Regions from separate parts of the Homo sapiens genome. Here region 2 is linked to region 1. Evidence: fine-mapped expression QTL. A gene starts in region 1. The other region holds a variant in brackets. All regions are shown on one strand. Distances are between the middles of the regions.

What was found. PIP is the estimated chance that this variant, and not a neighbour inherited with it, causes the effect.
Region 2: its variant is fine-mapped to the expression of SYBU in nasal epithelium (TOPMed, PIP 0.99).

Annotation. Positions count from the first base shown.
Region 1 is chr8:109,638,068-109,654,825 of GRCh38, forward strand. It overlaps SYBU (syntabulin), which reads right to left and starts at 6,755. Exons shown (of 7, transcript NM_001099754.2): 1 at 6,569-6,755; 2 at 4,661-4,865. The coding sequence starts at 6,592. SYBU-AS1 (SYBU antisense RNA 1) reads left to right here and starts at 6,062. Exons shown (of 2, transcript NR_161375.1): 1 at 6,062-6,155; 2 at 7,051-12,661. RefSeq lists a silencer at 6,520-7,009 and enhancers at 6,522-7,458, 7,120-7,439.
Region 2 is chr8:109,575,723-109,590,267 of GRCh38, forward strand. SYBU (syntabulin) reads right to left here. Exons shown (of 7, transcript NM_001099754.2): 4 at 10,338-10,440; 5 at 4,077-4,280; 6 at 2,146-2,295; 7 at 1-291. Among named protein-coding and RNA genes, the nearest start is that of EBAG9, 43 kb to the left of the region's middle. The variant T/C (reference allele first, on the strand shown) is at 4,837.

The DNA.
Region 1 (16,758 bases):
ATAACTCAGATAAATTACTGTTCTCCCATAAAACAACTAGTCTTCTATCTGCATAATTTGTTCCACCTGCCATGTTTACAAGGCGCCCCAAGGAGAACTAGCTTAAAAGCCAGCAATCCATCTGCCTCTCAGTTCTAAGGGGGTAATTATTGCCTCAACTAAGCAAAGAGGAATGCACGGCATGCTGCTAACCATGTCAGGTGACTGATGTATGTGCCTGACACACTCACCTAGGTCATCGGCTTTTCTAACAGTGGCTAGGGTCATGGTACAGTAACAAACACAATTCACTACTTACAGAAAAGGGGGAGAAAAATGGATAGAGGCTACATTCAATGGGCCAAACCCAGAACACAAACCAACAATGTGGGCTTTATCACTTCTTGTGTTAAAAACAAGAAACATGGGGGAGAAAAGACAGGTTGACTTTATGCCAAAACGCTGGTTTAAACAAACAAACAAACAAACAAAAAACTTTTTTTTTAAAAGGGGACAGGAAAGGAGGTGTTTTGTTTCTATTAACTTCCTATTAACTGTACTTCCTTACGTATTTTTAAAATAAAGCATTAATTAATATTTATTAATAATGTACAATGTTCTACTTGCTGTGCACATAAAATAGGGCCTGACCTCTAATACTGTATAAACTTAACTGTCTCCAACTAAGGTCATAGCGACCAAGACTGAGTACAAACTGTGAGGAATACTGTTTGAAGACTAGAATGATGTCCAAGCACAAAAACACTCATGTGCTGATGAAATGCACAAAACACATGCAGATCTTCAAAGAAATTTCGCTAAGAAGAAGCGATTAAAAAAAACAAAGCTCTTTGGGGACACACCCCAAATGAATTGCAAAAGGTCACACACAACTTCTTCCCTCTGAAATGAGGCAGAGACAACATACAAATTAGCATATAGAATATCAAGTCATTAAATGTTCCTTGCCAAAGCTCCCATGGGAAAGCAAGAGGGAGGCAGTGGAGTGCGGAGGGAAAACAGAAAGTGGGTAAAAATGGACAGATCACTTTGGAAATAGTTCTATTCTTTTCATTTCACAGGCCGGTAAAATTATAAGAAAAACTTGAGGGTGGAGTAGAGAAAACATCAACATTGAGTTGACATTTGTTTTGCTGAAGTATAGCTACCATCCACTATCATGAATTTTTGTTTCATTACAAATGATAGAAAAGCCAGATTCTCAAAATAAAGTATAATTCTTTGTATTAAATAAATGTTTATAAATGTTTATGAAGCTCATTACATTATCTTTTTTAAAAAAGTAAAAATTTTAGAACATATGACGCTTTTCATAATTAATGCTTTTGATATAGATTTGAGGAAAGAGTCTCCAGTTTGCAGTTCTGAAAATGTAATTTTCAAATTAAATTTCATTGCATTTGAGGTGACACCTTCCTCTATAATTTCATTACCAGATTGTAAGAATTCCCTTAACTAGGCATGGCCCCTTTTACATGAGTGAATGTGATGATTTATAAAGAAGAGAAGCTAATACAGGAGGATTACTGGAAGGTTGCGAAGCTATGATGACAATAGATCCCTTTAAATTATTTTAGCTTTGTTCTAGTAAAGGATGGTATTTTTTAATATTTGTATGCACCTTGTTCTCTGACTTAACTGCCGTGATTAAACAACGAACACACCTTCTGGCCTCAGTGTTGGAGTGGCTGGATTAAAACGAGCGATTTCCCCCTGCTGGTTGGACATGTCTTACATTCTCTATCTCACTGCCTCCAGCGTTAACACTCCCTGTAGTACCAAACCCATTTATTTTCCACCCACCAACCGGCCTCCTAAAGCATCATTAACATGCCCCCAAAGGCCTTGCTGCTGTCAATTTTAGCCTACACAGCACTCAAAAGCCTTTGTGGGGTTTATCAGAGTTCTGTAGGAAAGGAAGAGAAAGGCATTAGACTCAAACCTTGGGGAACTGACAGCACAGGAAGATGAAGAGAGATGAGGGAGAGGCCCAGGAATGGAGGAAATCCTATCTGCAGGCAGGGTGCAAGGCTCAAGATTGAAAGGTTGTTCAGAGACACCCATAATTATATGCTTCTGCCACTCAATTTTCATCTAGTTAATAGCAAAAAGATCAATATCTACTTTCGATTTTCATGTACAGCATTATAGCCTTAGCCAGAGACAGGTCTCCTAGGAAGGAGGATGATTCAGGAAGTGGGTCCGGGGAAGAATGATTCATAACCAAAATCAATAATCATATTGGTTTGCCTTCATATATTCTAAAATATATTTGGGGTTTTCCTTTTTTTTGTTGTTGTTTTGAACAACTTTTTCTTTTTTTCTGATAACACTACTCACCCTGAAATCCCTCACAGAGGAATTGATTACAGGGAGAGAATACCAGGAATAAATGTGGAACTGAGTTATGTACACAAAGCTCTGTCAGTTTGAAATGACGTGCCCAGAGTTCATCCACACTCACCAGGGTGAGCTCTGGGCTCCAAAACAGAGTTAAAGTAAACAGCATTACATTCTGCAAATATGACTCTAGATTCTAGGAATACTAACTGTGATAGCTTCTCAGTTATCCTTTTGTTTTCTTCTTGGGGGAATAGTAGGCAAAGCAGCAGTGGGTTTCCATCTTAAACTAGATTCATGTGATTCAAATATAAAGAAATAAGTTTTAAAACATAATATTTTGATAGGGTTTTTTTTTTCAGAATCAAGCAGACAATTTGATTAGCAAATTGTTAGCAAAAAATTAGTTAGCAAAAAAAAAAAAAAAAAAAGTAGGCAGTGCAGAATTTCCAACATACAACTTATGCAGAGGACAGAATAACTTTGTGGAAGTATGTAATAAATCCAAAGCTGCATTTATAAAATCCTTGAAAAATGTAGCTGTGAGCCCTAAATGCAGTGGAATGTTAGGTCCTGCTAAATTAGAGCATTAATCATAGCATCCTGATTCATGTGTTTCTTCTCATACATGTGTTAATCTTCAAGTTCCATGTTCCCTAAATAAGTTCTAAAACATTATCCACTGTGAAACATTCTTCACTAGTCATAAGACAGTCACTCCTTTAAATTTTACCCAAATTCCTAATACTTCTCAAGTAACTCCTTCTAAGTCATGTGCTTCAATGGGAATAAAAAGCTCTGTCAAATGATAATGGTGGCACCTTCAGGAACTATCAAGAGATTTGTGCCCTTACCAAACATGCTCACAACTTTAAGGAAACTTTCTTAATCACGTGCCCAAACAGACATCCATAGTTCCTTGTATTAAGAACCATCATTTATTAAGCACTTCTGTAAGCCAGGTACCGTGTAAGGTGAACATTTAGGTACTGGTCTCATTCAACTTCACAGCCACTCTACAAGGCAAGTATTATAATCTCATTTTATGGATGTAACAACTAAGGCTTAAGGAGGTTAAGCAACTTGCTGAAGGTCACACAGTATGTAAGTGGTGAAAGGGCCAGGGATTCCAGCCCTTCAGGCTTGACAGATCACAAAGCCTGGGCTCTTCCCTACTAAACCATAAGGCCAGGCCAGCCTTAGGCTATAACTCTCCTTGATCTTGACCTCATTTATTAGGAATTGCTTTATCTTTGGGGAATTTTATAATTAGAGGTACACAGGCTTCTAGAAGTTGCTAGTATAAAATTCAATCCAATATTTTTTCTACATTTAACAAAGGAATGCATCTTTAAAAACAGTCATAGAATGGCAGTAATTAAAAGATCAGGAATGGACAGATGCTGGAGAGGATGTGGAGAAATAGGAACGTTTTTACACTGTTGGTGGGAGTGTAAATTAGTTCAACCATTGTGGAAGACAGTGTGGCGATTCCTCAAGGATCTAGAACCAGAAATACCATTTGACCTAGCAATCCCATTACTGGGTATGTATCCAAAGAATTATAAATCATTCCACTATAAAGACACATGGACACGTATGTTTATTGCAGCACTGTTCACAATAGCAAAGACTTGGAACCAACCCAAATGCCCATCAATGATAGACTGGATAAAGAAAATGTGGCACATATACACCAAGGAATACTATGCAGCCACAGAAAAGGATGAATTCATGTCCTTTGCAGGGACATGGATGAAGCTGGAAACCATCATTCTCAGCAAACTAAACAGAGGAACAGAAAACCAAATACCGCATGTTCTCACTCATAAGTGGAAGTTGAACACATGGACACAGGGAGGGGAACATCACATACCAGGGCCTGTCAGGGGGTGGGGGCTAGGAGAGGGATAGCATTAGGAGAAATACCTAATGTAGATGATGGGTTGATGGGTGCAGCAAACCACCATGGCATGTGTATACTTATGTAACAAACCTGCATGTTCTGCACGTGTATCCCAGAAATTAAAGTATAATAAAACAAAGGAAAAAAGTCATAGAAACAAGAAGTTAGATTTTACATTCGAAATTATAAGCTAGAATAACATATGAAAATTCAGGTGTGAGATTCCAATAAACTGAACTATATGAAACTGCTGTGTTTGTAGGTCACAACAGCCAGAAATGTACCACCTTCTACAATTCATCCTAATAGTAGAAGTGTAGTTCTAGGCTATAAGGGACCCAGTATGGGCCCATTCACAATGCACCTGCAGTGCACACGCTTCACGCCTCTGGTGGCCTCCCGAGGGTACTGTACCTGAGCAGAAGCTGTTGCTGCTAACGGTCCTCGCTGAGCGCCCAGAGCTGCTGGGGTTGAACTCTCTGCTCTCTTCCTCAGAGAAAGGAGACTCAGAGGCTGGGGACACTTTGTGCTGTTGTTGGGGCATATGGGGCCGAAGAATCAACCGGGGAATTCGGCTTCGAGAAATCTCCTTGTCATGATGCTGCACTCTGTGCTCCTTCTCAAAATTGGACATCAAAAAAGAAAACAAAAGGAAACGCGTTTCCCTCTCTTAACTCCTGTCGGTTCCTTCAAGGATCAATTTCTAAGAAATCACATTTCTGAGTATTGAGTCTTCACAGAGTAGTCCTTCTTATCTCAGTTGCTGAAATGAGCTTCAAAACTCTTCCAATGAGTTAACCTTTCTAATCTACTGAATAGCACATGTCTGTGTGGCACACACACACACACACACACACACATATACACACCTCCACTCACTAGCTGGAAGGCCATCCTACTTCCCTATGCTGGTCCTGACTCACCTTCCCACCCTGACTTCTATCACATTCAAGCTTCTGCCTCCCAAAGGCTCTTTATTAACACCACACTCTGGCTTACTTGATAGCCTTCAGACTTCCATTTTGCTTTCCCTAAATTAGCTGTGACAGTCTGACTTGTTTTCTTGTCTCCTCACAAAGTTGAACCCTATACCTGGAACAGTTATTTCCTGATAGCTCACACACAATTATCTTTAAAATCCCTCCTCTTCTGGACAGGATCTTAATTATTCGTTAATATCCTGGTACACAAGGCTTGTTGCCAACAGAAAAGCAAACACAAATCCGATACTCGGGAAGATGGCTCCACCTTTTACATCATCTTTAATTTTTGTTTTCCTTACAGGACATCCATAAGAAGAGATTTTTCTTTCTCCTTAAAAACGCAGCATGAAGTACCCTGCCATTTCGTGGTTTTAAAAATGCGTAACAGTAATATTTTCACAATGTTTTCCAACTTATAAAGTGCTTTTCCAACCATTTTCTCATTTGATCTTTACACACCAGACTGTACATAGAGAGCACACCAATGAATGTCCCTATTTTCAGATGAGGAAACAGGCTAAATGGGGTAGAGATGCTTAGGCAATTCTGCACACCATGCCAGAAGTAGAACGAAATTCAAATCCAGTGCTTTGCAGGGTCACCACCACCCTGCCTTATGAAAATGGATTCCTAGGAGGAGCGTTTTGCAAAAATTCCACTGCTTCCTCCAACCTCTGCCACTGAAAGGGACTCTTTGGCTTAGGTAACAAACACCCTTTCGAAACATGACCTACTGTTCCTTCCACCGGCTTACCAGGAAGGGTCACGGCCAAAATAAACACCTCTGGGAGGCCGGCACATGGCATAAATTGAAGGGTAAACCTCAGCAATGGGGAACTTCGGAGGGCCCTCAGGCATCCACTCTACCCGGGGGCCGCCAGCCGCACGCAGCCTCGGATTCGCCCTGCACATCTGCCGCCCAGCAGGTACCATGCGCCAGCCACTCCGCCGGGCACACCGCAGACCCTGAGCTAAGGCAGGGTCACTGACACGCGGGAGTCCTCTTTTCCCAGTCGCGGATGCATCAAATTCCTTTCATTCACATCACACACACAGGATATCAACTGAAAGCTACACCCCACAGTCCCAGTTTCAGGAGGTGGGATTAACCCTCCAATCATGTCATTCTCCAAAATCTATTCCTCCAGTACCACCTCCCCATCTCCTGGATCTCAACTCCTAAGCAATGCCTCCTGCCTTCTCCAGACCCCACCACCACCTCCTTCCACCTTTCCCCAGACTCTAAATGTCACCCCTCCAGCTCTCATCCCGCCGCTTCTCGCCCCGCAGTGCCCGCCTTCCCCGCCCTCCAGTGCCCGCACTGCCCCGCGCTCCTTACCTTGCTCTCGCGGAGGGGCCCCATCGCGCCGCTGCCCGCCGGCTCCTCGCGCCGCCGCTGCCGCCGTCCAGGAGGAGGCACCTGCGAGCACGGAGCGAGGAGACTGCGCTGAGCCGGCGCGGGCTGCGGGCGGCGGCTCTTGGTGAGGCTCCAACGCGCCGCCGCCGCCACTGCCGCCGATTGCTCTGGGCTCCGAGGGCACGCCCGACCCCGCCCCGGCCGGACACGTGGTGCCGCACTCGCTAGAGGCAGCTCCTGGGGCGCCTCCCACGCCCTCCCTCACCTGCGGCCTTCGGGGCAACTCGACCGCGCCTGGGCGCGCCCCACCCGCCCGATTTCCCCACGGCACTCCGCGCCCCCCCAGCCAGAGCCGGTGTCCCTCCCTCTCCAAGGAGCTCGGCCCGGTGTAGGCAGGCTGCGGCTAGCGGCATCTCCAGCCCAGGGGTGACCCCACCCTCTTTTTTTTTTGCACTTGATCTCAGGTTTGAAGTGGGTGGCGTTGGATGGAGTGACTGAGAAAAGCTGCGACATCACAGAGAGACAAAATAGAGAAAGTTTTCCCCTGGCCACCCCTCCTTGGCCTCCAGGTCTTAAGTCAGCCTACAGCTCCCCACAACTGCCTCGCCCGAGAGCTGCAGAGATCCCTCTCGTACCGGAGCCCAGCCAAGCCAGTGCGTCAGGACCGACACAGCCTCTGGGTTCCGGGATCTGAAAGGCTGCGATGGATTCTACTTGGAAGGGGTTGCATCAGAAAGGCCTTCAGTGGTCAGCGCAGCTCCCTCCGGCTTGGAGAAGCCAGGCTGCTATGTAGCCAGAGAACAGTCTTTTCCCCAGCGCTGCCCTGCAGCTGCCCGGCTCCAGGAAGTAGCTCCAGCACACTGCTAAGGGAAGAGCACTGGAATTGAACTCAGAAAAACGAGTTCAAGCCAGCACTCCAATCGGTCCCTTCAGCCTGAGTGCCTTTATGCCTAAAGTTTTTGTTGTTGTTTCGTTTTTTGTTTTTTTTTTTTTCCGTTGCTGTTGAAACGGCATCTCGTTCTGTGGCCCAGGCTGTAGTACAGTGGCGCGATCAGGGCTCACTGCAACCTCTAACTCCTGGGATCAAGGGATCATCCCGTCCAGGCCTCTCAAAGTGCTCGAATTACATGCGGATGCCATTGCATGCGTGGCCTACGCCTACGGTTCTTGACCCTTCTGAACTTCAAATTTACCCTTGTTAAATTGAGGGATAATAATAGTGATACCTACCTCTAGGATAGCTGTGAGGGTTAGGTGAGGAAAACAAACAGCTCTATCCAGCTGATTGAACAGAACTTTCCAAAGGGCAGCTAAGTCAGGTCCAGATGATCCAGTCAATATTTGTTGATGCCTTTTACATGACAGGCAGAAAAAGCATTTGTGATGCACACAAATTTGTTTAAGAAAGCTCGAAAATCTGTCCAACTGGGGACTTAGAATAGGGTACATCAGCTGGGCCAAGGGCCTTGATTTATTACAATTGCTACCCTTAAATCTTATCTGGTGGTGGAATTCACCATGTATAATGACTTATATACCCTTTATTCAGAATTGGAGAATATTCCAAGCAGTGCGACACTCTGATCCTTATGCACCAGTGTCCTACATAGGAGGACTGTGCTCCTCGAAAACTGAGGGTCATTGTCCCCTTTCATCCATCCTCCAAACAGCATTTCTGAGTCCTCAACTCTCAAGCCTAAGAATATATGTTGTGAGTCTAGAGAGAGCCTGAAGCCAGAGGATTAGTGGAATCAATTTCCCTTCTTCCTATAACTCCAAAAGAGAGCTTCCTCCATAAATCTTCATGCCTTTTCAATCTACTTAGCTCTCTCAAGCAGTGAGGTTGGTAATTTTAAGATTCTTTATTTGGGAAGAAGAGGTGATTAATTCATACTTTCTACACCCACAGCTGTTTCAAATATGGACCTCAGGAAAGTGATGGTCCAGGATGATTCATACAACTTATTATTCCTAAAATTATGAGCCTGGGATCATATACTGTGAGATAAGAACAAACTTTTAAAGTTAATGGATGCTTCTGAGTTCCCTACTTAGAATTGAGAATTGACACTGGGGACCTAATAGCAGAAACACCCTCCACTGAGTTAGCCAAGTCAGAACCTCAGTGTCATCGTGGACTTTTTTCTCTCATTCACCTGACCCACACATAGCATAAACCACCAAGTGATCTCTATGCCACCCAAGTAATAACGGTCTTGAATCTGATTACTTCTGTCCACTATTTGTCTCCATTATCTTCGTGTAGAGTGTAAACCACAGTCACCCTAGATTATTGCAATAGTGGTCTAACTCAAGGTCTCTTGCTTTCAGCCTTGCCTCTTATTCCTTTCTCTCCGATCAGTGTCTCCATTTTTCCACAAGCCTTTATGAAAAGCTAAATCAAGTCATGCTTCTCCGTGAAAACTCATTAATGATTTCCTGATTGTCCTCCAGGTAATACTGAAACTCCTTAATGTGGCACACAAGGCTTTCCTGATCTGGCCGCCTTGTTTACCTCTCCGATCTCATTTCTTGCCACTCCTCTCTTTTGTAGATACTCCCTCCCCTCCCTAACCTGTCCCTTTGGTCCCTGCCACTCTTCCCTTACATACAAATGGATACTGCTCAAACTGTAGCACTTTCAGTTCTCGGAGGTGGAGGTTTTGTATTCTCTTTTTCGTCGAGACTGCTGCACCTGCCTCTGTTTAGAACATTTCTTGCACTACATCCACCTATCCTCCTCAACTCTTAAAGATACATTGTTTCATTTTAGACAGCTTCTTCCAGGAAACCTCCCCTGATGATTCCAGGACACTTATTTTTACCCCCAAGAGAGCTGTTATGATCTCCTCAGAATTCCCCATTTACTTGTTTGTTTTCACCAAAGCTTGTAGGCAGTGCCTAGTACAATTCCTGTTATACAGTTGACACTCAATACATAACTGTCAAATGAATTAATGCCTGAATGAGTGAATTCTATAACCCCATAAGGGGCCCATCAGTGCAAGATAAAGAACATAGATACAACTTGTTTTGAAAATGATTCAGATAAAGCTGCCTCCACAATGTATTTGTATCTGATGATTGGGTGTGTGCCTAAAAAATCCAACATGTGTTCAGTGACAGCTTTTACTGCAGAAGTGCAGGCACTGAGAGGCTGTGCAGTAGCCTTGCTGTCGCCATAGCAACCTAGCAGAGGGAAAGGCTGATGATTTAGTGTTCAGATGCCTCTTAGCTCTGTACTTTTGGAACCCAAGCCTGTTTTTCCACTGTTCTAAAAGGCAAGTTTTACCGATGATAATATCTATGCCGCCTTAATTTCATTCAAGTGTTTCTCATGTCATTAGAAGAAATGTCTTGTAACATTTGGATTATACCATCAAAGAGATATAATCTAATACAGCATAATATGGTCTTCTTTCCCCTGCTTTAAAATAGTCTTATGCATCATTTTCATTTTTTACTTAAAGACTTACTTTATGGTCTTGTTTTATCACCTTTTGGCTTCTTTAAAAATTAATGTATTTCTGGCTTTTAGAAAATATCAATTGCTTTAGGATTTAACCTTGAAATATTATAAATAATATATAATAATATATATATACAATAATATATATATATAATATATATATATATCTCCTGGCAAAGCACAGGAGAGATAGGGTATTGTAGACTGGGAAGGAAGGTAATGTCTTTATATAATTATTCCCTCAAATCTGGGATAAGTTACTTGATTGTTTATGTGAAATTTGTAATTAAATGATTCCTACCTTTCGTATGCACAAAACTTTATATTTTCAGAACTCTTTCACATATATAATTTTATTTGAGCCTCACAAAAATCCCGTGAGGTACATGTGGCCAATCTCTGAGACCAGATAACTGAAAAAGCATAGATTTTTATTAATAGGAATCCCCTAGACTGCAAACTTCACAGAGAAGACAATACAAATGCACTGCTGAAAAGAAAACGCCTGCACCAAACAACCCAGACACATCACGGTCCCTCACATTCACTCTTCCTCACATCTCACCTGTGTATGCAGGGGGTTTTCTTGGGCTCAATCAGGGCTGACAAAGCACCATCTCCTAATCCTATCAGCTGTGTGAGCAAGAGCTGCTGTCTCTCTCGGTGACCTAATGTTGGGTGATCTGCACAGCAACAAGGAGCAGCTGACGTGCTTCACAACACGTCACGAAGGAAAGAAACTGCATTCTGGGGCATCGTGAGATTTTTTTGTGTGTGTGGTGGGGTGGGGTGGAGACCCATATTTTTCTTACCAGGGAGAGAGCTGCCTGTTTTCCCATAAGAGCATGTGTGATTGATCAACCCTCCTCCTTTTTTTTTTTTTTTTTTTTTTTTTTGGAGACAGAGTCTCACTCTGTCGCCAGGCTGGAGTGCAGTGTGGTGCGATCTCAGGTCACTGCAACCTCCGCCTCCTGGGTTCAAGCTATTCTCCTGCCTTAGCCTCCTGAGTAGCTGGGACTACAGGCGCGCACCACCACACCAGCTAATTTTCGTTATTTTAAGTAGAGATGGGGGTTTCACCATGTTGGCCAGGATGGTCTCCATCTCCTGACCTCGTGATCTGCCCGCCTCGGCCTCCCAAAGTGCCAGGGTTACAGGCATTAGCCACCGTGCCCAGCCCAACCCTTGTCTTAATGTATGTGTGTTATCATTACTATAGGTTGAGGTACTTTGATGCTGTAAAACTGAAATGACTAGAATTGCACAAGATCACTCCCCCAGGAGGTGGCATAGAGGTGCTTGGGGCAGAGAGGGCAGTGGGTAACCTGAGGCAGGCCATGCTTGAACATTCACTGGGCTCAGAATGTGTCAATTATCTCTGCCCGACAAACGAGTGTTCAGTCAGAGTATTCTCTCAGTGAATAACAGAAATTAAGGGCAAGTCCAGGGGAAGAGGCAGAGGTTGGGGGCTTGGAACGTTGAAGGATGGTAAGGGTCTAATCCTCTGATGCCTTATGGGAGAGCAGACATGAGATAGCCTCCCCCAAAATGGCTTTTTGTTTGTGGCCTTTGGTTCATCTTTGAAAATAGGGTAGGATATTTGTCAAAAACATAGGCACGGTGATTGCATTAAACAAAATGGGGACACATTGTTGGACAAGTAGGTGTACACTTATTAGGAAAATGAATCAGAATGATTGAAATTAAGACGCTCTGGAAAGTATGCGTGTAAAGGTTGCCATCTAAGTAGGGGAAACTGAGACTTGACATTTACCTAGTGAAATGCTTCATGTGATTAGACAATCTGTTGGTCTCACAGGTGTACAGAAAAGGCAAAGGATGTTATCTGTAAGACATGAAAAGGAAAGCCTAAATCCAGTAGATGAATTCTGGGGCTAATAGAGAAGCACCTTCCTTCCCCAAGAAACCAGAAAGTGTGGGAAAAGCAGCTGAAAGTTGCCTGAACCCAGGAGGGCAGCTATAGAGAGAGGATGCTTCTCAGACATGCCAGACACAGAGCAGATACACAGGCTGGAGGCTCTGAGGGGTTCACTCAGCATCCATAGCAGTCTAGGCTTAGAAAAAAAATTGTAATCTGGGTTCCTGGAAAGCAGAACAATGGTAGATTTGAGTTACATTAAAAACAATATGTTCTCCATAATGCACTTTATTTCCATGATTTTATATTTTTTGCTTCCACTTTCTAGTAAACATCTTAAAAAATAACTTTGTCTTTATTTCTGCTGAGAAAATGAGAGCAGGTGCAAAAGAGGAAGACTTTGAGTGTCTCTTCTCAAAGAGCAAGAACACTATTGCCAAATGGAGCTGAGCACCCCCAGAGGCCAACCAACTACTATGATGGCAGCTACAGCAGGGAATGGTTGGGCTGTTGGTGTGGGGGTCACTGGTGCAGTTGTAGAGCTGAGGATAGTTTTGATTGCTGCTTTATTCCCACTTCCTAGGTTATTCCTGTGAACCACTGTCCTTTATACCTGAAATCTTGTGACCTTGTGAGTAAAGCTAGCCTTTGCTGTGTACTCCCAGCTCCTCTCTAACGCACTGCAGAAGAATTTGTAGGAAAATAAAACTAGAATTTGGGAATCTGGCCTATGTAGTTTCATCTGCCCATGTGTCCTTTTTAGCTACTTCTGCTTATCAAGAGAAAAAATATGCCTTTTTAAAATGATAACTATTTTTTTCTTAAAAAAGGATACTAAACCATGTTATAAAAATTTTAGAAAAGAAAAAAGATACTCATTATCTCATTGCCTTAACATCAATTATCCCTATTCCTTCTGTTAGCAGTTTCATGTATTTACTTTCAGGCTTATCTACTGTGCATCAAAACCAGCATGTTAAAATAAGAATGAAATTCTAAGTGGCATATGGCAAGTGAAGTTACTACTCCCTTCTGTCTTTTCTCAGATTATCAGGGACTGATCTGAGATACAGGGATCTCGGGCCTCCTTATCACTACTGACAAACAGCTGAGGCTGCTGCTGGAAGCCTAGAAGTTTCAGGATGGCTTCCTAGATATCTGGTCCTGGTGGAGACCGGACCCATCTGAAGCTTCAGAAAAAGTTGCTGGTGGGGAATTAGCAAAGCTAAGGCTGGAGAAATGACCTTAACTCAGAGGCTGGTAGAAAAGTACCTGTGCCCCTTTCTAATCAGAAGCCCAGCTACCAGCTTGCCATAATGTGAACCTAATTCAGGGAAGCACTGGAAAGTGAAATGAGTTTCCCAAGTCTGGAAAAACATCTGTGATGAGAAAATGTAGTTTAATAAAGGACATGAATTCTTGAGTCTCATAGGCCTGAAATTGAGACTTTTTTTTTTTTTTTTTTTTTTTTTTTGCTCTGACAGTGCTACTCCAGTCAAGTTATTTAACCCCTGTAGGACTCAACATTCAGTATGTGCACATTAGCTAAAAAGGAAAGAAGAACCAGTTGCACTAGTTAATGTCTTTGGGCAAATTAACTTTTCTGTGCCTCATTTTCACATCTAGAAAATAAACTTAATAACAGTAATTAGTTCATAATACAGTTATAGGGATTAGATAAGAACAGACGCAAAGCCTAGCATTTATATCTGGCACATGGTTAGAGCTTAATAGATATCCTCTGTCCCTCAGGATCAAATGGCTCCAACCACCATTGCTGTGTCTTGCTTGCTTGTTTCACATTCACCTCATCCTAAAAAGTTTCATCTTAATTTTTATTAAAGGGAAGCAATAAGTTTTCTCTCGATGACTTATGGCATATAAAGGAGGACACTGAATTTCTCATTAGAAAAGATATTGCCAGGACTTTTCCTCCAGAAGGTAGAGTAGAAGGCATGATGAATGCACAGACACCTATCACTCATTCATTCATTCATTCATTCATCCATCCATCACTTCTTACTTCATTCCTATTCTGAGCCATGCACTGCCTCAGCCACTAGTTCCGAAGTATTCAAAGATGAACAATGATTGCTGCCTCAAGTGTCCCAAGGTCTAATAGAGACACGGACATGACCATCAGCTGATAAACTATTCAGTGTGTTTGCATGAGATCTGGACACCCAGAGGGCTTGCCAGTATCTAAATTAGACTGGGGTCTGAGATGTTCAGGGGTGAGTTTTAAGATGAATTTTGAAGCATTGAATACATCCTATTATAATCTGGTTTCTTCAGAGTTCCTTTCTCTTTATTGTTCCTCTCCTCTCTTCCTCCTCTTCTTCTTCCTTTTTCTCCTCCTCCTCCTTCTTTTTCTACTCTCTCTCTCTCTCCCTTTTTTTTCCCTACTTTGAGATACTTCTGCCACCGTCCAGGCCCCAAGGATTGATGCGGAGGAAAACAGCTTTTGGGCTTCCCCTTGAATCTTTACTGCCTGGATGTAACCTTCTAGAAGAAAGGGATTTTTCTCAAATCTTGATCACCTAGGACGGCATCAAGACAATACCTGGTGTTTTGTTAATTAGCAATAGTTGACATTTTAAGAACACCATGTTATACTGCCACCTATGGATTTGTTCATGAAATTTTTTTTTGACAGGTAAAGTCTCTTGGCCTGAAACGTAATAAGGGTTAATAATGCCTTTATTCTAACTCTCAGGGCAATTTCAGAAAACTTTCAAAATATACGGCTATACGAAACTGGATGTCAATAAATGGAACATTATTTGGTGGTTGTGAAATAATGAGCAGGTGCTTTGATAGACAATGGTTCCAAACTCCTTTCTTCTGTTTACCTGCTGAACCACTTTAGGCAAGCTAGGTAACATCTCTGTATCTTGGTATTCTTATTTGTAAAATACATGCGTGGTTCTACTTCATAGGTCTATTTTGAGGATTAAATTCTATAACACTTGTAATAAGCCCAGCATAGTCCCTTGTACAAACTGGGGATTTAACAATAGATTTCTTGGTCTCCTTTCTTCTCCCCTTCCTCAATTCACAATGACCCAGAGGAGGATAAACTATGTAATTCCATTTTAGCTGAACAGTCAGGTAAATCTCTCTAAAACAATAATGATAAATGATGTTCATATGGTCACTACATTATGTATTCCTAGGCATCTATTTTATTTTTTAAAAAAATACTAATCTTTATATTTTTGAGCAGTTTTAGGTTTACAAAAAAAATTAAAAGGTATAGAGAGTTCCCATATATCCCCTTACTGAGATCTATCCCAATCTACCTGATTAGTTAGGTATAATTATACTATGGCTTTTGAAGAAAGTGTAAATAAGTGCCCATCAAATGGATCTATATCTCCCATCTTCCCCTGCCCTTTGCCTGCCTATTACCTTTGGATTTGCCTCCAAGGTCTTCTCTGTCTCCCATGGTGGATTCAATGCCAAGACTCCTAGAAGTTTCCCAAAAGTCTTAACAGCACTGCCTCTCCTATGACCCGAAGCTGAGCATGGTGGGAAAACCCCACAACCCTGTGGATGAATGACACTGCATGCTCTTGCTTTTCACCTGCAGTGGGCCTCAGTGCTGCCTGGCAATCATTTTGGGCTTCTAGTGCATGTTCTCTCCTATTCTCCACAATGTCTATTTTAAATCTCCTCCATACTTCAAATCTACCAGCCTACCACCCCTGCCCTCATGTTGTACAGATGGCCATTTCTCCTGATTGACAGACAAAAATAGGAGGTATTAAGAGAACTCTCTCAATCTCCTGCCTCCAAACCTATAAATTCACCTGCCTCCACCCCATCCTTCCCATTTCTGGTTCTTTAGGATGGAAGTTGTGTTTCTTCCTATACAAGAAAAATTCGTTTACCTGAACTCTGGATCCCATTCTTTCCCATCTCTTAAGGCATATTATCCTATCAGTTAGTCTCTCATAGGATTATTGAGAGTATCAGAGGAGTTAATAACCATAAAGAACATGGAAGAGCACCCTGCACACACTAAGCACTCAATGAACGTTAGCTATTTTTTTTTATAACTTTAATCCATTTTTTTTACTGGACATTTCACATCAGCATTTAAACATGCCAAAAACTTTTCCAGTGAAATAAATGACCATCCAAAGCTCTCATATATTTCTAGTACAACCTGATTTCTTATCCCCATTCATCACCAAACGTCTGAAAAAGTTACTTGTCTAGAGTATATGTCTCACACTTCCCTGCTCCTTGAACCAATCCCTACTCCACTCATGTACTCACAGCTCTACCAAATAGCTCTTGCTCAAAGTCACAAATTCTTCCATTTGGTTTAATCTGATGGCTAGTTTTGATCTTAGTCTTGGCTTCTCATCAGCCTTTGCATAGTGAAATACTCGCACATTTTTGAAAAGCACTTTCATTTTTTCTGGAACATTGCCCTCCTGATCTTCCCCTACTTCTTGGTATCCTTTTAGCTCATTTCTTAAATGTTGCTTTTGCTCACTTTCAAGCCCTCACCCTTTTATTCTTTCATCCATCCTTCCCTCTTGGGGCAATATCTTTCTTTCCAATTGCTTCAATTGCTATTTACAGGCAGATCTTATAGAAATTATATAACTGCTTACCTCTATTCCATGATTATCCCATAGTTAATTTGGATATCTCAACTTTATATCTCACAGGGTCCACAAACTCACTACATTCCAAATTGAATTCATCATACTTCCTCTAAAAGCTGATTTTACTTCTGTGTTCCCTAAGTTGATAAACAATATCATCATGAAGACCCTGACACCTGGGTGACATTCTTAACTTTTCTGT
Region 2 (14,545 bases), 63 kb before region 1:
AAGTCTAGGCACAGTTCGTCCCTCAGAGAGCCACTGTGTGCCATCTCCATGCTCTGAAGGAGAGACTCCAGCTTCTTGTTTTGGATGTTTATGTCCACAAAATATTTCTGAATGCCTTTATCTTTATCAGCCAAGCTGCTCCGCATGGTTTCGATGACCTGTTTGAGCTGTTTAATCTCTTTCCTGGCTTCTTTGAGTGCCAACTGGGCCTCTACCCGGTGACACTCCTCCTCAATCCAGTCCTCTCGCATGCGGGCCAGCTGGGACTTAAGCTCCACGATTTCACTTTCCCTAGAGTGCCAAGACAAGCATGGTTAATTAAAAAAAAAAAAAAAAAAAAAAAAAAAACTTTCAACTGGGCAACAGGCAGTTCAGGCAGTTCTGGCACAGAGCCAAGAGCTCATACTCTTCCACTTGAAATACAGATGTGAAATCAGTTTTCAATGCAGGGAACTCAAGAGAACACAGAAAAACTTGAGAAAACACTCCAGCCTAAACTGAAAGAAGCAGTACATTTTCTCTTTGGCGGAGATTAGCTGTGAACTTTCTCTTTACTTGTAAAATGGCTAAAGTAATAATAGTAATCAGAATCAGAATCAAAATAGCTACCACAATTTTTTTTGAGTACTCATTATGGGTCGGATATTGCACTGTGTTACAAGTCTTATCTTCTACTCAATCCTTAATATTTGAAACTTTATTATTAGAACATCTTAGCATCTGTTAGCCTGTTTTTATCTCCATATCCTACCCTTTCCAAATGTCTATAGTTTGTGGAAGGCCAGTTCACTTTTAATTACCTAAGACAGAAGGTAGACTGATAAGTTTTAGCCTTGCTAAATTGTTCATATGGTATTCCAATGATAAACATTTTTGAAATAATAAAATGCTACACGTGGCAGGGACTTTACATGATGACAAGCTGCTTATTCTGTCTCCTCTCAGGTAGGATAATATTGAATTCATCCTACACTAAGGAGAATCTATCCTATTTTTCAGATCCTTCACAGGACAACCCTATTTCAAGATCTTTGTATATAAATTCTTTCTTATATATAATTTTTTCATATTCAGTCCTTACATTCTCAGTGGATATGAAGATAGGGTAGTCAGGATCCTCATATATATGAAGAGACATCAATATTGCTCATTTAAGTTTAGGCTAGAATATTTTCCCAAGTTTTGCTGCATTCCCATTCCTTCCTCGAGTGCTCCAATCCTCCCATGGACTCTGCAAATCACAGACCAAACACTTCCAGACATAAGGTCTGACTCACCCCAGAGGGGAGTTTGGGTCTCAAGTCTATTTCAGACAGATGATGAGCCAGATTAATTCGGAAGATGAAAAATTTCCCTTCCTCGCAGTCTGCACCCTTACCTGCCCACAGTTTTAGCAACCAAGGTATTGAGTTTTCTTTATATCTTTGTGGCAGCAGAAGAGGAGGTTTGGGCTGATCAGGTAGCCCAGACTCTTAGAGAATGCACATGCCACCCTCACCCTGAGCTCACAGCTACCCTGGTCAGAGCTTTCCTGGTCTGTTCCAAAATGTTCCAGGGGAAAATGATCAAGCAGAAAAACTGGCCTGCTGCCCAGATGTCAAAAGTCTTCTCCCTCAGATAAGATCTCTTAAGCATGGGCTTTTTTTTTTTTTCAGCCTTAACACTTGGCCAAGAACAATGAGCCCCTTCCTTCGGCACAGAAATAGCATGCAGGAATCACAATGCACACAGATATCCATTCATGCACGGATATAAACACGGCTTAATTGGTCCACGGTTGTGACCCATTCTGCTGGAAGTATGGGATTGTTCCCGCACGTGTTTTTGCCATTTAAAAATAGTCATGCACACACCTGATTATTTCACATCAAAGCTGTATACACTGCAAAACAACAACAACAAAAAACGACAACAACAACGAAAAACAAAGGTTCCCCTCTAACCTACGGGCCTCCCTGAACTCCTGAAACAGCCATATCACACAGAGTTATGAAATGACTCTTTTCAGAGGCTGACTTTAAAAATTTGACCAAAATTGAATACAATCATTTTTTCTTTTCTATCTTTCTATAGTTTGGGTTCATATTTCATTTTATGGAGAAAGAAGTTGTCCTACACCCCACCGTTCAAGGAAGGCAGATTCACCTTTCATGGAGTCGGCGCTCAGATTCCTTCAGCTTGGTTTTGAGGTGTCTCACTGTCACCTCTTTCTGCTGCAGTGGAGTCAAATACTGCTCTGGGTTTGGGGGTCTGACACCATGATTTTCACCGCAAGACATGTACCTTCCAGAACGCCTGAAACAATCCAAGTAATGAAATGTTACTTTTTGCCGTTTCCTTTTCTATAAAAAGAAGAGTAACACAGAGTGTTATCAACTGAATGTCTGTGTCCCTCCAGAATTCATATGTTGAACTTCTTACCCCAATATGACGGTATTAGGTGGTGACGACTTTGGGAATTAGCCCATAAGGGTGAAGCCTTCATAAATGGGATTAATGCTCTTATAAAAGGAACCCCAGAGAGCTTTCTAGCTTTCTTTTTCCACCCTGTGAGGATACATTAAGAGGTCAGCAGTCTGCAGCCCAGAAGACAGCCCTTCCCAGAACCAGACCTTGCTGGCACCCTGATCTCAGACCTAAACCTACAGTATGTAGCCCATGGTTCTCGAAAGATTTGGACCAACATCTAGAGTACTTTGTTATAGCCACCCACATTGACCCAGACACAGCTAACAGCTTGAGAAGGAATGGTAGCTGTGTGCTGGGGTCTTAAACCTCAATAATGGGTGACCTCACTTCAGAAGGTGAGCTGTAATAGAATTGCCGATCTTAGGACTGTTAATTACTTTGAAGATTGAAGGGGGTATTGGTGTATTTATGGAGAGAATAGGGACCGTGGAGGAGGAGAATTCTCTATGGCTTAGGAATGTTCTCATACAAAATAATGCACCATTGTCCAGGTGCCTGAGCTGTCAGTTCAGAGTAACATGCAGCACAGTGGGTGAGGGTCAGGGGATGGGCCCGGGCAGAAGAGAAGGAAGCCAGCCAGAGGACCTAACTTTCTGCACAGTGTGCCACTGCCTAAAGATCCTGATGGCTATTTGCTGAATGCAAGTTGTTCTAAAATCAATCCCTGCTGTGAGTATGCCAGTTTGGAGGAAATGGAAAGATCCTTCTTCTGAAGGGAAGAAGTTTCTTCCTCTACTTAACTCTCCCCAGTGTGTTTTGTAAGACAGGCTCAATGTTTTACAAAACAGCCCTTGCTGGAATCTTGGCCCCTCTCAGGCCTGGCTGGGAGCTGGGAATCCCTGCTGTAAGAGAGCTGACTGACGAGAATAGGGATGCCCAGCAGGAAGAAGGCCGAAGGAGGAGGGCAGCCAGCTCCTTCCCTGACTCTGGACCCAGTCCCAGCCACTATGCTGCCAGCTCCCTGAGCACCTGCCTGCCTCCAAGATGACCTGTGTCCATGCCCACCATCCAGTCCTCCTGTCGTGGCCTCTTTGGAAATGCAGTTCCTTCTTTCTGCTCCACACTCCCTACAATCTCATATGAATTAACTTGTTGCTTGCTCTTCAGACCTCAATTCCATTTCACTTTCTCAGGGAGGCCACCCCTGATCGCTCCAGACTGCGTTGGACACCCTCCCCACCTTTCACACACCCCTGTAGCAACAGGTGCCTACAGAATCATCTTAAGTTGTTTTTGTTTGTTTGTTTGTTTGAGATGGAGTCTTGCTCTGTTGCCCAGGCTGGAGTTCAGTGGCGTGATCTCGGTTCACTGGAACCTCTGCCTCCCAGGTTCAAGCAATTCTCCTGCCTCAGCCTCCTGCTGCCTCTGTGGCATTTTCTCTCCCTATTCAGGAACTGCTTAGATTGCTGTGCCTTGTTAGAAATTGTGGCTTGCGCTCTTTCTGCAGCAGCCCTTGAGGAATGAGCCGAATGTGGGAAAGAAAAATGCAGTGTCTTGTAGAATCAGGCAAGGGATCAAGAGTTGTATAACTTTTTTTTTTCTTTTTTAAAGAAAAGCTTACCAAGTAGGACAAACTAAGATGCATGAATTAGGTGAGCAGGACTCACCTCATGATGGGGCTACAGTCGCTTCCTTTGTAGGAGCCTGAGTTGCTACTGCTTGGGGAAGAAGGTGCATAACTGGGATGGATATTGACAGGGCTCAGCTGATTCCTGCACAGCATGGACAGAAGGTCCTTTTCCCGCGGGGATGATGGGCTGCTGCCAGGCTTGTGTGACGAAGCTCCATTACTCCGCCCATGAGGACCTCGACTGGGAGAAAAGAATGAAAAATGTTAAAATTCTTGGGGCTACAGATGCCCAAGGGCTAATGTCTTACTCCTTAAATCTAAGGAAATCCAATTTATAGAGTTGAAAGGCGCAATACAATTATTCGTGTAGACTGTCCTTAGGAGCGGCCTTCTTCCCACCTGCCTGGTATTTTCTCTCCTTGTGACATCAGCACAAGCAACCTCTCCCTCTGTTGTTCTTTCAAATAGTTTCTGACCATAAAGCTTTTTTTGGATAACACCCAATAGCCTGCTAAGAACATACACAATGTAGAATATTGATTTAGCTCAGGTTTATTTTGGAGGCTGTTTATTTTGGAGGCTGTTTTCAAGATATGGTTTTTGTTCTAGTCCACCTGTTTCAGTTTAGAAATATTTGCATTTGGTTCATGTCAGGGTAAGAAAATTAATGCGGTTCATTTGGAGGATGGGGGAAGGTGGTACCCCATACAGGAGGAGGAGAAAACAGGGCAAGATAAACAGAGCACACATAAATGCATCATTGGTAATTTTGATTACTTAAAATTTTTGTTTCATTT[T/C]CTTCTAGCCCCAGTGACTTAAGACAACCTTTGTCATTTAACTGCTGAAATACTGTAACAGCCCCATCTTGGTTCTCCTGCCTCTTGCCTTGCTCCCTCCAGTAGAAGGTTGGCTTGTGGCTGGAGTGGCCTTTCAAAATGGAATCTGATTCACTATCCTCCTCAAAGCCTTGCGATGGTCCCCCACTGCCTCCAGAACAAAGGCCAGCCTCCTTAAGATGGCTCACAAGGTCCAATCCCACTACTCCATCCAACCCCATCCTCCACCACTCCTCACTCCTCCCTCCTCCCTCTGTACTACAGCATTCCAAATCACTTACAGTTTCCTGAAGGATCCATGCTTGACCATCCTTAGGTTTTTGAACTCATAATCTCCTCTAATTAGAATGTTCACCTGCTCCCTTCTCTAAGCCCCTGGATACCAGGATACTTCCTACTTTGAGACTGATGGGAACGTACTCTAAAGAGCCTTCTCTATATTCTTCCTTCCCTAGGCCAGTGTAGGCACACTCCTTAATGCTCCCTAAAACTCTGTGCAAACTTCTACCATTGGACTTATCACATGGCGTCACAACTGCATACTTATTTGTCCTTCCTGCTAGGCTAGGGCAACCTTGAGGGCAGAAACAGCTTGTTCTTTCTATCCTCCTACTTTTGATACATGGTAAGTGTTCCCTAAAGGACTGCTGAATAAATAAACCAGGTGTGAGTCATTGGCACTGCCACTTAGTAGGAACTTAGGCAAGTGAGCCACTTAACATGGGGATCAAAACACACACACATGCACACACACACCCACCCCTTTCCTACCTTCCTCACAGAATTGATGTGAAAATCAAATCAAAGAATGCATGTGAGTACATTCCACAAGCTATTAAGGGTAACTCAACTGTAGAGTATTATTAGAGGATAAACTTGTTCAAACTTCACCATTAATCCTGACAGAGATTTGACACCCAGTAGTGTAAGGAAGCATCTTGAGAATGTTGAAATTACTTAAACAGGATAAAGTTCTATGTCAGGAATATTACTTGATGGCAAAAAAAGAGAAAACAAGATAGCTTTCATATAGTAGTACTGCTTTCTGACAAACCTTTCTTTGCAATTTTAATTACAGCTGTATCCAACTGACATCTTAATGAGAAATGTGTGTAAATGTGAATGCAAGTGTGCATGTGGGTACACTTGGCTTCAAAACCATGATCACTTATTTACAATCAAATATAATTTCAACTGGCTGTCAACCTTGCAAATCAGACATAAATAAAACGTAACCAAGTTCTAAAGTTAAAGTTATTTCCTTTTGAAATCATTCAAATGAACGCCGCTCTTCTCTTCGTGAGAAGAGGACACTTTATACGGAACAGATGGGCTGATGGCTTTGTGACAAAACCAACTTCAGCAGCCCATGGTAGAAAGAACTTCATGAGTAGCTGAAAGGAACATGTACCCTGGTGTGCATTTTCTTTTCCATGCTTCACTTCTAAGTCTGGCATCAACCAGACTATTTCTTAATCTGATTATGAGAAATATGGAAGATTAGCTATTACACCTTAGGCAGGAATGTAAAGAGCTATCCCATATTTTGACCTGGGGAATTTTATTACGAGTTAACTTCCACTGAGGACCTTCTGTGACCCTGGCGCTGTTTCAGGTGCTTTCTGAATATTGATCAGGAAATAAATTATCAGACAGTTTGTAAGAGCTAACTTTTTAAAAAGAAGCAACATGCTTAAAAATATCAGTTCTCTTCATTTAGTAGTTCAAATGCTAACATGTATAGGTGCAAACTCATTATAGGCATTGATAGGAAACATTTTCAAAGGAGACACTGAGATTCCATGTTTGTCATGGCCATGAACTGTGAAACCCAATGCTGTCCTCTTCAGCCCATCCCAGATCCTTCAGTCTGGTGGACAAGAAAAACGCAGTCCACAAAGAGGAAAGAAAATTCTGCTGACCCTGAACCCTTCTACAAACCTGAATACGTAACTAGAAGGTCATAGACAGAGGAGTGAAGATGACACCTCATGAGTGACTCAGGTGAATTTCGATTCCCTGACCATGGCTCTGGACTTCAGGTAATATCATCATCATCGTCATCATCATCATCACCATCATCACCATGATCTAGGGTTGAACTGTGTCACCCCCTGCAAATTGATATGTTGAAGCCCTAACTCCCAGTACCACAGAATAATGGGGCTTTAAAAAGTGATTAAGTTAAAATGAGGCAGTTAGGGTGGGCCCTAATCCAGTTTAACTGGTGTCCTTATACAAAGAAGGAATTTGAGCAGACATAAACAGAAGGAAGATGCTGTAGAGACACAGGGAGAAGATGGCCACTACAAGCCAAGGAGAGGAGCCTCAGAAGAAGCCAACCCTGCAGACATCTTGGTATCAGACTTCCCTTTTCCAGAACTGTGAGTAAATACATTTCTGTTGTTTAGGCCATCCAGTCTATGGTACTGGGTTATGCAGCCCTAGCAGACTAATATAATCACTACCACCATGATTACCATCATAACCACCACCAGCAGCAGCAGCAGCAACAGCAACAGTACCATGTCTCCTAGTACTACTTTCACCCCTACTGACAAAAACCACCTTTTACCAACGCTTTCACTAAGTTCTGGGCATCATGTCAAGCACTCACACATATCATCTCATTTAACTCAGTGAGGTAAGATGCTATTATTATCCCATATCCCAAAACAGGAGACTGAGGCTTGGGGTCATACACCTGATAAATAATGGAGGCTAACCTCAATCCCAGGTCTGTCTGACTCCAAATCCCAAGGTTTTTCTTTTTCTGTCTGATTTTTATCTTCCAAACAGATTCATGTTTTAGTTTAAGAAAGATAATTCCTTAGAAATATCAGCAGAGTTGCCCTTCTATGAGACAAGATACTCTGTAAGCCTTTAAAGTTTTTGTTTTAAAAATAACTCGTCAAAAATATTCTCACCAGCTCCACCTGTTCCTCACATGTCCCACTGATTGACCAATCTTCCTGTTAGCCTTCCTTCAGGGAGCTAATTCTCCACAGAGAAAATTCATTCACTACATGGGGAAGCAGCCAATTGAAAGGATCACAAACTACTACAGAGTTTGGCAGAGATACCCAGCTACTCTAGAGGAGCTGCCCCCCCATGCGTGGCCCTCCAGAACACAAAATTTATGTGACATTGCTGAGATAGTCCATGACCAAAATCTACTGATGGTACTCTGTGCCTGGGTGAGATTCTTTTATTTATTTATTTACTTATTTGAAACAGTCTTGTTCTGTTGCCCAGGACTGGAGTGCAGTGGTGCAATCTTGACTCACTGCAACCTCCGCCTCTCAGGTTCAAGCAATTCTCCTGCCTCAACTTTACGAGTAGCTGGGATAACAGGCACCCACCTACATGCCCGGCTAATTTTTTTTTTTTTTGTATTTTTAGTAGACACGGGGTTTCACCATATTAGCCAGGCTGGTCTTGAACTCCTGAACTCAGTTGATCCATCCGCCTTGGCCTCCTAAAAGTGCTGGGATTATAGGCATGAGCCACTGTGCATGGCTGAGATTTTTAAAAACTGAGGATAATGGATAGAACACTGCCATTTTCAATTTTCCATCTATTAATTTTTGTTAAACCTTTGAAGTCTATTATTGCTTGGCTATAACAGATACTAACAGAAGCATTCATCTGATTTGCATATAATTATATTTGGCTATTTTATGTTTAATATGTCAAATTTTGACCATGAATTCTAGACTAGAATATTTTCTCTTAGTCACTCTGTATTATTGACACAACCTTGGAATTTAACCACAAACACTGATTCCTTTGAAATATTTAAGTTGGCTTCATCTACAGGCCTTCCTTTTTTATCTTTTTGCCTTTCTATATTGTTTGATACTTTGTTCCATGTGTATGTCATAATTTCTTGAGTGGGTTATATAAATGGTTTATTCTTAGAGCAAGCCACATCTGATTTACACAGAATGTTTACATTCATGTCCTATAATCCCAGAGGCACTTTATTGCCAAAATGGTGGTGGTGGGTGGGGGCTGGGGATAGAGCAATTGTGCTTTATTACTGCGGACTTCACTCTTTTGTTACAGGTTTGTCTGGCTTCAGCTGTATTTTTAATGATAAAACTGTGCCCTGGGGGTCTCAGGTCGCCTTATAAACATCTGCTAAATCTTCAGCTCACCCAAGAGAAATAGAAAATATTTGCTTGCTGAGTCCTGGAAAGGCAGGCTTTTGGAAACTAAATAGATTTTCTCCAGGAAGAGACCTTAAAAAGTCACACAGTACAACTGTCTTTTGGATACCGTGGCCCAGGGGAATCAAGTGACGTGACAAAGTCAGAAGCCAGGTCCCCTCACGTTCTGTGGCTCCCTCCATAGCTTTCTTTAAGTCTCTGCTCAGAGCTCAGTTCACCACTGAGGTATCCTAGGACCCACCAAGCTAAAATATACCACAAACCACATTACTCTCTATCTCCTTCCCCTGAGTGTTTTTAAAAATAATTATATTATTTTTCAATTTATTGTCCTTCTTGTCCTACTACAATGAATATAATTTTGTGGAGTTTTGTTTCCTCATAGTAGATGCTCAATAAATACTTGTTAAATGAATAAACAAAGCCACTGGTGGCAAGCACAGAATCCTGGGGCTTACAGTCCCTCCCACTGAATGTGCATAGTGGCTCCCATGTCTCATAGTCCTCTCCACCAATTCAAATAACATCAATGGAGAGAATTGGTTGATGCTTGCTATGCTCCATGCTCTGACTCAGCATTTTACTTTTATTAACTTGTTTAATCCTAACAATAAACCCTCTGAGGTGGCTGGGTCTATTTCACAGATAAGGTAAACAAGGCATGGAGTGGTTAAACAACTTGCTCAGAGCCACACAGCCTGGAGTTGGTGGTGCTGGCATTTGAGCCAAGGCAGCCTGGTTTCAGAGCCCACACACCCAGCTGGTGTGCTCTATGGGGTGGCCACCATGCCTATGAACGTTACTACACTTTCTTCACTCCTTCCCCAGGTAAATGCTGGGAGTGGTCAGGGAGTAGCTGCTTCCTTCACAGAGGTTAAAAATGGAAGTCCAGCTAGAAGAAAAAAAGGGTGAAGTCAGAGGCTTCACAGCTAAGAGACTCATAGCTTCACAGAGGGGAGGTAGGAGGGAAGTGGGAGACCACTAGCTTCCTATGCAGATGAGTACACAGGTGAGTAAGGGAAAGAGAGAAGGGACAGGAGGAGTGGGCATAGAGTCAAGGGTTGGATGGGAGACAGCCATGGATGTACAAACACAGGTGAGCCATGTGACCACAGTTGGCAAGACAGGAAAAACTACCAATTTAAAATCACTGTAAAAAAACAAAACAAAAAGCCTCACTGAATAATAAAATATGAACGGACAGTAATCCGGGTGGTTCTACAGATGCACAGGTGCAGGTGAGTCACCTGTGTAAAGCGTCTTAATTACAGAGCAGGAGATGGTGCCTACTTGCGTGAAGAAGAAGACCGCTTGCTTCCCGCAGTCGACATATGGACCTCAGGAGCGGAAATGCTGCCTGTGCTGCTCGAGGAGCTAAAATCAGCTTCACTACCTGAAAAACAACAGGGGAGAGAGAAGCGTGAGGGAAAGGAAACTAGAGAACACATTGGCCAGTTCCCTGCCTTCCAGGTCCCTGCTCCCTGCGTTTGCACACTATTGGCAAGTGCCAAGATTCCAGGGCTTCCAGGCTCACAGCATTTTCCTCAAAGCAGTCAAGAGAAGGCCCAGTACAAGAACATCATTTCATAAACACAGCTAAGATGCACAGTAAGGCTGGTTTCATAAAGAGGCCAGTCTTCCTGCAGACACTGTCAACAGTGACCCAAGTGCATCAAGAAATGCACTGTTCTCCCGTATGTGAGGCTCTCACTCCACAACAACGGGCTCACCCTATTTCAAGCAAAAGAAAAATAAAATACTTATCAGTCCAAGAGTAGTTTTTCCAAGAGAGTTTATCTTTGGGCTTCTGTAGTCAGCTACTCATACTTCAATTTGGCAAGTTAGGTTTGGAGACAGTTAACCAATGAGAGGCAGTCAGGAAAGAGCAAAGCCTGGGCTCCCAGACTGCTGCACTGGCACTATCTGAGGTGACTTTCTCTGACTGCAGTTTTGGTTTTTCTTTAAAGAATAGATCCTTAACAGAAAAGCAGAAATTTAACAGTGATAGAACCTGTAAATTACACTGAAATTTGGAATTTTAGCTTCAGGGTGGGATTACAGGTAGGGATGTTCATTAGTTTGCAAAGATCACATGATACTTTGAGTACAGACAACAGGTGGGTGTGTAATTATAATATAAATATGCTGTGCAGTAAAATAATTTATATAAATTCATTCTAACAAAAATATGTAGTTCTGAAAGAGTAATAATGGAAACATTCCCATACACTGCCTGGGGAAGTAAGGGGAGGTGGAAGAGGCAAGCTAGACAATGAGAAGAAGAAAAAGAATTTTTTAAAAACGTGAAGTACCATGTGCTTCTGAAAAATAAGTCTAGGTATACAGTTTAATTTGACCTTGTTGCTCAACTCCTACCACATAATTTGTGCCTTTTCTGGTCTAGAACCCAGAGCCAGCTCACATTTCTGAGCTAAAGAAAATATGAATAGCCTAATCCTTGATTTTCTAACAAGCAGTGAACAATAATTATCATAACAATGGCTATTTATTGAGTGTTTACTAGGTCCCAGGCCCTGTTCACGATACTTTCTATGCTATATATTATTTAATATTGACATCTTTGTAAAATAGACATTAATCTCACTATTTTACTATTGAGAAAACTGAAGCTGTTTGTCTGAAGCTTATAGGTGATAAATCCTGTCCAGGACCAAATCTTCATGCTACTTCTCCCATACTATGCTTTGCCCTCAGAAAGGCAGTAGGAAGAAGCAGGGGAACAGGAGAAGTTCTTAAAGAAACTATACATTACCATCTCCCTAAAAGGTCAACATGAACCATAGGTACAAGATGTGGCCAGACTCTGGCCTACTAGGGAACAGATTTCTCTTTCTGATGGCCTCTGTTAGTTTTGCTAGAGAGGAAGGTAGGTAATCACAAGGCAGAGAGAAGAAAAAATCCTTTCCCTGGTTTCCAGGAGCTCTCAGGAACTCCAGCCTCTAGCAAGTCCAGGTCTCTAGGAAAGAGACCAAGAATGACCCATTAGCCAAATGACAGCAGTGACTCCTGGCTCCCAGTAGAATTCTGGGAAGATTAGCAAGGTAGTTTATCAGAACTGAGACCAGCTATTCCTTCTGGATTGCAGAGACTTTGTCTAATGATGTAATGAGCTCCTAGAAGCTCCCCAAACTTAATCAGTTGACTCTAAGGAATACACTGGTTAAACTGTAGTAGTTTACAATCTGAAGGATTCATGATTGGTAATGCAGTCCAGCAGCATGAGATTCCTGACGGCCTAACTCAACCAGCTTTGTTTGCTAGTAAATTATCAGGTTGGTTATTAAATGATAAAGGTAGGTGATTTTCAAAAATAGATCCTTCAGTTACAGCCATCAGGTTTAAGATACTATTTTCTAATGTGAAATTATTACTCTGAAAAACACTCAGCTTTCATTCCTTTCACAAAAGCCCATCGATTATAATTGAACTGCTTGCCTAAAAGCAGAAATTCTAGAACAGGAACAGATAATTGCGGAAAATCCATTGTTACCCCACGGTGCTTCTGATCTGTGGTAATTATGTTCTCTGAACTGAAAGGACAACTTTGTTCTATATTTTATTGCTACTGGAACTCAATATACTGACTTTTATGTATTTGCAGGGCCTAAGGTCACTTTGTTTCAGCACTTTCCTCTCTTACCTTCTGTACATCTGAAAGAGATTAGAAGGCACATTCGGGTCCCTGCAGCTGCATTCAGGCCTATTTGAATAGTACGATAGTGAAAAATGTATATACTACTTCACAACTATTTCAGTTCATGAATTTAAAGAACGTAACCTGGTTAATGCAGTGTAAAAATCAGTGAACTCTTTTTAAGGGATACACAGGAAAGCTAAATGTAATACATCATCTGATATACTTTCTTCATGTACTAAGCAAAATAACTAAGAGAAAAGCTGGAGACCTAATCACACCCCCCGCCCCCGCCGCCATTTATCTATTAGTTGGCAACAAAGATACAAGGAAGGAGAGGCATTCTTTATTCATTTCCTTTAAACAGTGTATGCAACTAAGGTATTGTTTTCAGTGCTCTTTGGGGTTATTAAAATCACGCACAGAGTACCTAACCTAAAAACATAGAAACTCGGCTGGGCATGGTGGCTCACGCTTGTAATCCCAGCACTTTGGGAGGCCAAGGTGAGTGGATCACCTGAGGTCAGGAGTTCGAAACCAGCCTGGCCAACATGGCAAAACCCTGTCTCTACTAAAAATACAAAAATTAGCTGGGTGTGGTGGTGAGCGCCTGTAATCCTAGCTACTTGGGAAGCTGAGGCAGGAGAATTGCTTGAACCAGGGAGTTGGAGGTTGCAGTGAGCCAAGATCATGCCACTGCACTCCAGCCTGGGTGACAGAGCAAGACTCCATCTCAAAAAATAAAACTAAAACAAAAAACAAAACAAACAAAAAGAAAAAACGTAGGACCTCAGCTAGACAGCCTGGATTCAAAGCCTGCTCCTAACCCATATTAGGTGGAAAGTTTTAGCCAAGTTACTTCACTTCTCTGTGTCCCAGTTTCCTAATTGGTTAAATAAAGATGATACTCATAGCACCTGCTTCATGGGTTGCTTGTAAAGAATGAATGTCATCCTCATCAACAGTCTTTGTTCCTCATCAATATTGTTTTCGATCAGCTGCCAGGTTAGTGGAGTGTTATCCCAGGACTGAACAGACAGGATGAATTTGATGACCTTTAAGATAATGCTCTGATGCCAAACGCTTGGTGACTAAGCATCCTGCTGCAGAAGGCACTTTTCCAACTCTCAAGAACCTATGCCCAGTGGCCTCCAGAAGTTCTGGCAGTTTTTTGTTTTCATAGCACTGCTGAACTCTTTTGAGAGATATTCCTTTTATTTATAACGTTAGGATAATAAGCGTTCTGTGCATGTATGCTAACGCCAGGGAATTAGAAAAGGAAGGAAAAATGAAAACAAAAAGAATACGTGCCCAAACTGATAACTAACTAGACTTATTTTTAAAGCACTGCCTGTAATCTGGTCTCTTAGGACATTATTAATTTTGCCTGTTTTCAAGATATGGAGCAGTCCTCATACATCAGAACATCACAGTATAGAACAATCCTGAGATCTACTAAGCAGTATTAAGCCATTCTAAAACACTGATTTAAGTAACCCCAAGCCCTCTCTTATCTTTTATCACTGCAAAGCTATCAAATTAATTCAGGTTGGACCACCTCAAATAGAGGCAGTAAATTAAAAAAAAAAACCCACCTAGTTCCCACCCTTCTCTCCCATCCTCCTTCTCCACCCATCCCCCCAAAATACACATATTTTTAAATGTACAGGTCTCCAGGGAGGAGAGAGGAACCATTTTCACTGAAGCTAAGCACAGCTATTAAGGAGCAGCAGGAGCAACGGACACACGCAATTATAGAAGACACTATTAAAAGAAGCTGCTCTAAAGTACATTCAGTAGAATGGACTCTTAACTGCTAAGGCTTGGGGGGCCCAGCCAAGGT